Linked DNA regions of Homo sapiens. The protein of the gene in region 1 purifies or fractionates together with the protein of each later gene. This does not show direct contact. Each region holds a gene or a part of one and is shown on either strand. Other genes may lie near its edges.

The links. Proteins that work in one complex are often made in the same cells at the same time.
Region 2: the proteins of CCNT2 (region 1) and CDK11B purify together in Homo sapiens (affinity purification with mass spectrometry, with the first as the bait; one large-scale study listed by BioGRID). This does not show direct contact.

The regions. Positions count from the first base shown.
Region 1 is NC_000002.12:134,949,822-134,953,321, forward strand, and holds part of CCNT2 (cyclin-T2), read left to right. Parts: intron 1-2,819; coding exon 2,820-2,890; intron 2,891-3,408; coding exon 3,409-3,500. UniProt on the Homo sapiens protein: Regulatory subunit of the cyclin-dependent kinase pair (CDK9/cyclin T) complex, also called positive transcription elongation factor B (P-TEFB), which is proposed to facilitate the transition from abortive to production elongation by phosphorylating the CTD (carboxy-terminal domain) of the large subunit of RNA polymerase II (RNAP II).
Region 2 is NC_000001.11:1,645,505-1,649,004, forward strand, and holds part of CDK11B (cyclin-dependent kinase 11B), read right to left. Parts: intron 1-3,500. UniProt on the Homo sapiens protein: Plays multiple roles in cell cycle progression, cytokinesis and apoptosis. Involved in pre-mRNA splicing in a kinase activity-dependent manner. Isoform 7 may act as a negative regulator of normal cell cycle progression.

The DNA of each region.
Region 1 (3,500 bases):
GAGTCTCAGTCGCCCAGGCTATAGAGTGCGGTGGCGCAATCTCGGCTCGCTGCACCCTCCGCCTCCCGGGTTCAAGCAGTTCTCTGCCTCAGCCTCCTGAGTAGCTGGGATTACAGGTGCCTGCCACCACGCCTGGCTAATTTTTGTATTTTTAGTAGAGATAGGGTTTTCACCATGTTGGCCAGGCTGGTCTTGAACTCCTGACCTCATGATCCACCCACCTTGGCCTCAAAGTGTTAGGATTACAGGCGTGAACCACCACACCCAGCCAGTAGGCATAATCGTAATAAAAATAGTTTATATACCTGGTGCTGAAGTAAAAAGATCACAGAAAAGTAATCTGCCTTTTATCCTGTCTTTAGGTCAGAGGTTAGGTTGTGGTTTATGTGGGGTTTTTTGACACAGGAGGAGCTACCTCATTTCCATTCTGAAAAGTAAAGTTTGTTAATTTGGAGAGCAATTGAATAGGAATCTTGGAGAACTGATATGTTAAGACTTTCACCATGTTTTGCAGCAGCTTTTTTTTCTGTGTCAGTCACAAAAAGGCAATTCAAAATTAAAGACATGAAGGTGTGGCCGGGTGCAGTCACTCACATATCTTGAGCACAGGAGTTTGAGCCCAGCCTGAGCAACATGGCAAAACCACGTTTCTACTAAAAATACACACAAACCGGGCATGGTGGCGCACTCCTATAGACCCAACTACTGTGGAGGCTAAGGTGGGAGGATCACCTGAGCCTGAGACGTCAAGGTTGTAGTGAGCTGTGATAATGCTACTGCTCTCCAGCCTGGGCAACAGAGGAAACCCTGTCTGGGGGGAAAAAAAAAGACATGAAGATTTATCTGAATTGTAGAGTGAAGTGATACTACTATTCTTATTACTTACTGAAATAATTCACTTAATGATTGTGTTCCAGAAAAGAACATTGGCTTAGACAGTAGCTTTGAGAGAGAAGGGCCTCTATTTTAGGCACATACTGTGATTTTTGTGCATATAGCTAATTAATTATGTTAATGGATTATTTAACAGATTCTTTTGTTGTTCTGCTATAAAATTTAATACAGTAGGATACTTAAGAAAAACAAAGCTTACATTTTGTGTACGAGATTTTGGACCAGAACTTGAAGTGTATTTAATGTTTTACAACCAAGTTGTTAACAGAAATTGAGTCAAAACAGTTTTGTTAATGTTGGACCCAAAAGTAGAAAAATAGTCTTTTTTTTTTTCTTTTTTTTTCAAATGAGGAAGTAAAGGTCTGGGCATTAGGGTTTTTTTCATCCAAACTGGATGAAAAAGCTCATGAGACTTTAGCAGGGACTAGTCATGACATTGTCAAGGAAATTACATCTTGAAAGATTAATGGTTAAATTATAGCTTGTCTGAAGTGTCGATCTTAACATTGGCTTAGAATAGTTTACAAAAAAGCTTGCTATTACAAAATGAACCTGTAGTCTCTATTAATAGAGGTTCCCCCAGTATTGAGGTGGAATTGGCATTATTAATATTATATAATATTCTGATGTATTTGACTGATGAATATTTGAGAGTGGCTAGTAACTATTAATGACATTATTAGTTCATCAAAACCACACTACTTTGGAAAAGTGGGTCATTTGATTGTAATCAGAATTTTAAGAAAGTTGGTAGAAATTTACAATGAAGATAGTTTGCTAATATATTAATAGTGTTGATAGCTAGGAAGTATATTTGGAGGAATTTTCCCCTTTAAAAAAAAAGTCTGGGTGTGGTGGCTCACACCTGTAATTCCAGCACTTTGGGAGGCCAAGATAGGAGGATCACTTGAGGCCAGGAGTTTGAGACCAGCCTGGTCAACATAGCGAGACCCTGTCTCTGTTATTTAACAAAAAAAAGAAAGAAAGAAATGCAAAATATTGCATAGTTCCCTGTATACCCTTTAGCTTCTCCTGGTACTAACATCTTACATAACAATATATGATTATCAAAACTAGGAAGTTAACATTGGTACAATACTGTTAACTAAACCACAGATGTTATTCAGTATTCCATATTTTTCCCTATTCTAGGATCCCATGTTCCATTTAGTTGACATGTCCCTTCAAGTCTTCTCCAGTCTGTGACAGTTCTCCAATCTTTCCTTGTCTTTCATAACACTGACACTTAGGAGAATAATGGTCATTTTATACAGTGTTCCTTAGTTGGGGTTTGTCTGATGATTTCTCATTATTATGTCGAAGTTATCCATTTTGAGCAAGAATACCATAGAAGTAAATTGGGTCTTGCTTGGTGCATCATATCAAGGGGTACAGTATGTTGATACGTCTTATAACTGGTCATGACAACCGTGATCACTTGGTTACAGTGGTATCCTTAAAGTGGTTTCTGCACTTTAAAGTCACTATTTTTTTTCTCTTTGTAATTAATACATTTCATGGGGAAGATACGTTGGGATTATACAAATAACGTTTTTCCTCAAACTTTTGTCCACTAATTTTAAAGAATCTTTTGATAGATCTTGTCTGTGACAAAAATTATTGTGGTGTTTGCCTAATGAAGATTTTTTTTTTATTGGGGGGGTGATTATTTTTAATGCTACTAGATTTTCTAGAGATTCTAATTAAGCAAGTAAAATCAAGAGGGAAAGTAATCGTTACAAAAGGATTCAGCTTTGAAAATGCCGGTTGAGAGTTGTGTGTACTTCTGTGTATGCTGAGGATTTAATAGGAGGGTAAAAGTGAAGTAGATGAACTCCTAGCATTCCTTTTTAATACTGCCCACTTAAGAGAAATTTAAATCCTAAAGGCACCTTCTAAGTTTCAAATTTAAATTTTATTTTTAGAGCTAACACATGAGTTTCTACAAATATTGGAGAAAACGCCTAATAGGTTGAAGAAGATTCGAAACTGGAGGGTAAGAGAATTGACAGGGTTTAACAGAATTTCAGTCTTTTATGTAACATTTACATAGCTAACCAGTTTGAATTTTTGTGGTTAAATAATCTTTGCAGTATTCCTGAATAATTCAACGTATCTCAAGTTACATATACTCACATATTCAACTACTGAGTCCAGTGGACTTTGCTAAAGTACATTATACTTTTAAAAAATTTTTTGCAGTGATTATGACAAAAGTATCCTCTTCATTTTACAAATGGGGAAACTGAAGCCTAGACAAGTTAAATTACTTTCTGAAGTGCTGGGCTAGGATTTAACTTGTATCTGATTCTAAAATGGGTGTTTTCAATTTTTTATAGCCTTTTATGCCTCTAAGGCATTTATTTACTGACAACATAAAATCTTGAACCCCAGGTCATTTTATTTCCATATGTTTAATATATAATGTTTTTAATATATAACTTTTATAAGACAAGAAATTTGCATTAAATTATTTTGCTATATCACTGCTTCTTCTGTGTTTTATTTTAATAGGCTAATCAGGCAGCTAGGAAACCAAAAGTAGATGGACAGGTATCAGAGACACCACTTCTTGGTTCATCTTTGGTCCAGAATTCCATTTTAGT
Region 2 (3,500 bases), on another chromosome or scaffold:
GTAGCTGGGATTACAGGCGTGCGCCCTGTACTCCCAGCTAATTTTTGTATTTTTAGTAGAGACGAGGGTTTCACCATGTTAGCCAGGATGGTCTCAATCTCCTGACCTCGTGATCCGCCTGCCTCCGCTTTTCAAAGTGCTGGGTTTACAGGCCCGAGCCACCGTGCCCAGCTGCCATTTCCAATTCTAATTAATAAATGATCCATTTCTTTCCATTCGATCGGTGTTTGCTTCATGGATTTTGGGCTCTGTGGTTAGATGCATTCACACGTATCATTGCTGTATCTTCCTGCTGTATTGGCCTGTTTCTGGCTGTGAAGTCCTTGCTCCTTCTTGTTTCTAGCTTTTTTTTGAGACAGGGTCTTGGTTTGTCACCCAGGCTGGAGTGCAGTGGCGCAATCTCGGCTCACTGCAACCTCCATCTCACGAGTTCAAGTGATTCTCATACCTGAGCCTCCCGAGTAGCTGGGATTACAGGTGTGCGCCACCACACCCAGGTGATTTTTGTAGAGACAGGGTTTCACCATGTTGGCCAGGCTGGTTTCTAATATTTCTTAACATCTGTTTTGTCTGGTATGAGTACAGCCATTCAAGCTCTCCTATGACAGCTGATGTTTGTACGCTGCGTCTTTTCCTGTTCTCTAGCAGACAGCATACAGTTAGATCTTGTTTTTCTATCTGATAATCTGCCCTGTCTGTTTGGGGCACAGAGACCTTTCACATGTCATATAATTACACGTACAGTTGGATTTACTTTCCTTGCTTTGTTGTGTCTTTTTTATTCTTCCCTTTTTGATTTTAAATTACATATGTTTAGCATACCATTTTAATTTATTTGTACTTTTTAAAACACTAAGAAAACAACTTTCTTAGTGGTTGCTCTAGGGATCACCGTATGCCTCATGATACTAGCTCAAGTCCAGTACAATATAAAACTGTTGTAACACAGCTTTATTCCCTGTCTTCTTTGTGCAGTCCATTTATGCCACATACCATGACAACAGTGTAATTATTTTATACAATCGTAGTTCCAGTAAAACCTAAGATGTGAGGAGAGATAGTTACAGGATATTGACGTCAACCTACACTTGCTATCTGCAGTGCCTGTCCTTCCTTCCTGAGGATTCAAGTTACCGTCTGGTGTCATTTCTATTCAACTTGAAGGTCTTCCTTTAGTATTTCCTTTAAGGCAGGTTTCGCCAACAATGAATCCCACCAGTCTCTGCTTCTCAGGGAATGTCGTTCGTTCCCTTTCACTTGTGTAGAACGGTTTTGATTCCTGGCTGATGGTTCTTCTCTCTGAGCAGCTTGAGTATGCCACTCCACTGCCTTCTGGCCTCCATTGTTTCTAAGAAGTCAGTGGCTGGCGGTATTGAAGCTCCCCTTTCATGGGATGGGTCATTCTTCTCTGAGGCCTTTCAACATTTTCTCTTTGGCCTTTGCCAGTTTGACTATGATGTGACTTTGCATTTATTCTAGTTCAAACTTCCTGTGCTCTTGAATGTGCATATTTTTTAATTAAAATTTGGAAAGTTTTTAACCATTATTGTAACAAATATCTTTCCTCTCTCCTGGAACCCCCATTCGACGTGCTTTGGTACAGCAGATGTTGTACCACGGGTTTCTGAGGCTCTGTGCATTTTTCTTGTTTTTTTCTCTCTGTTCTTCAGAATGGATAATTTCTACTGCTCCATCCACAAGTTGTTTCCAAGCCTTTACTAAATTCAACATCTGGACACTCAGACAGTTTTTACTGATGATGTTCTTCCTCAGTATGGGTCACACTGTCATACTTCTTTGTATTTTAGATAATACATTTGTAGCAATTCTGGATTCTAAGTTTTCCCTTTCGTTGTTACCACCGAGGCCTGTCTGGTTGTCCGTGAAATCCATCTCCCTCACAGCTCGTGGCCACCCCGTTCCTTCCCACATGCCTATTTTAATTTTCAACCTTGGCTTCCTAGGGGTCACCACCATGGCTGCACAGCTTAGCAATTAGCCAGCACTGGAAAAAGGCTGGGCTCAAATACCTCGAGCACAGTAAGGCTTCCTTGGCCCACGGCTGTGTGTGGACAGGGAGCACACTGAACGTTCACGCGTCATTCGCATCTGTGGCGGCTTCTATTTTCTGCCAGGTCCTTTCACGCAGCTGCATCCTCAGGGCTGGTCACAAGTGGGTGGCGGCTCGAGCTCTCTCCAGTCTCTGCTGCACGTCTTTGGCGAGATCACAGCTGCTCCCAACCACACTGTACTTCATTCTAGCAGACCTCTTGGCCTTTTCTTCCTCCCTCCACTGAGGATGCTGGTGGGCAAGGCCACTGCCCACTGCTCTAAACGGAGTAACCCCTTCCAAGGCAGCAAGGAAACTGCAGGTCCTGCAGCTGCCCTGTCCCAGTGGAACCTCCGTGCTTCCCAAGTGCAGAGTGGAAGCAGTAAAGGGAGCAGCTCTCAGGCCAGAAGGTCAGATTCTTACTGCTTTCACCCACAGCTCAGCAGTTTTCCAAGCATCAGTGCTTCTCAGATTATCCTTATCAGTTTCCTTTTTGTCAGAGACAAGGTCTCCCTACGTTGCCCAGGCTGGCGTCATGCGGTCCTCTGGCCTTAGCCTCCCACGTAGCATATGCTACCATACCCAGTTCTGGATTGGCTGATCTGAATCGGCCCTACCCAGAAGTCTGCCCCCAACAATTTTTGCTCATTCACTCTCCTGTCTTTACCTTCTGGGAAATCAATATGACAGCCCAAATTTCATCTACCAACCTCCACTTCTATCCCAAGCTGTACTCTCGTGGGACAAGACACACTCAATGTCTGGCACAGGGTGTGGCATACATGAATGTTTCACACACTAACAGGAACTAGGCCAACTGAAACCTTGCTCACCCCGCAGCGGTCTCGGACCTTGACCCCTGGGCCTCAGTGTCTCCCACACCCTTCGGCATCAACAAGAACCAGCGCCCTCTCATCATCTTTACATGCTGTGTACCCAGCCCTGGCTGCTGGCAAACATCGCTGCCCTTCCGCTTCAGACTCCTCTCTTCCTGGAGCAGCTTGCAAGCTTTCTGTGGACTCACTCTGAAGGCGGAGATGGGCCTGCTCCCACCTGGCCTACAGCCTTTTTCCTGGTTCACGGAACAGATCTGGGGCTACACCGATGTTCTTTCTTGGGAATCTGGCTCATAAAGGGGAACGAATATATAAACTAATGGCCAGGAGTCCTGGGAGTCCAGGGTCCCGAATTCCAGACTGTTTCAAGGTTTTTAGGATCTCCCTTCTCCTTTTTTTGAGACAGTCTCACTCTGTCAACCAGGCTGGAGTGCAATAGCATGGTCATAGCTTACTGCAGCCTTGACCTCCAGGCTCAAGGGATCCAACCACCTCAGCCTCCTAAAGTGCTAGGATTACAGGCATGAGCCACCGCGCCCGGCCGGACATGCAGATTTCTGATCCCTTCATTGTCTTCCCTCAATCAAATCACACCCGTTCTTACTTCCAGATGC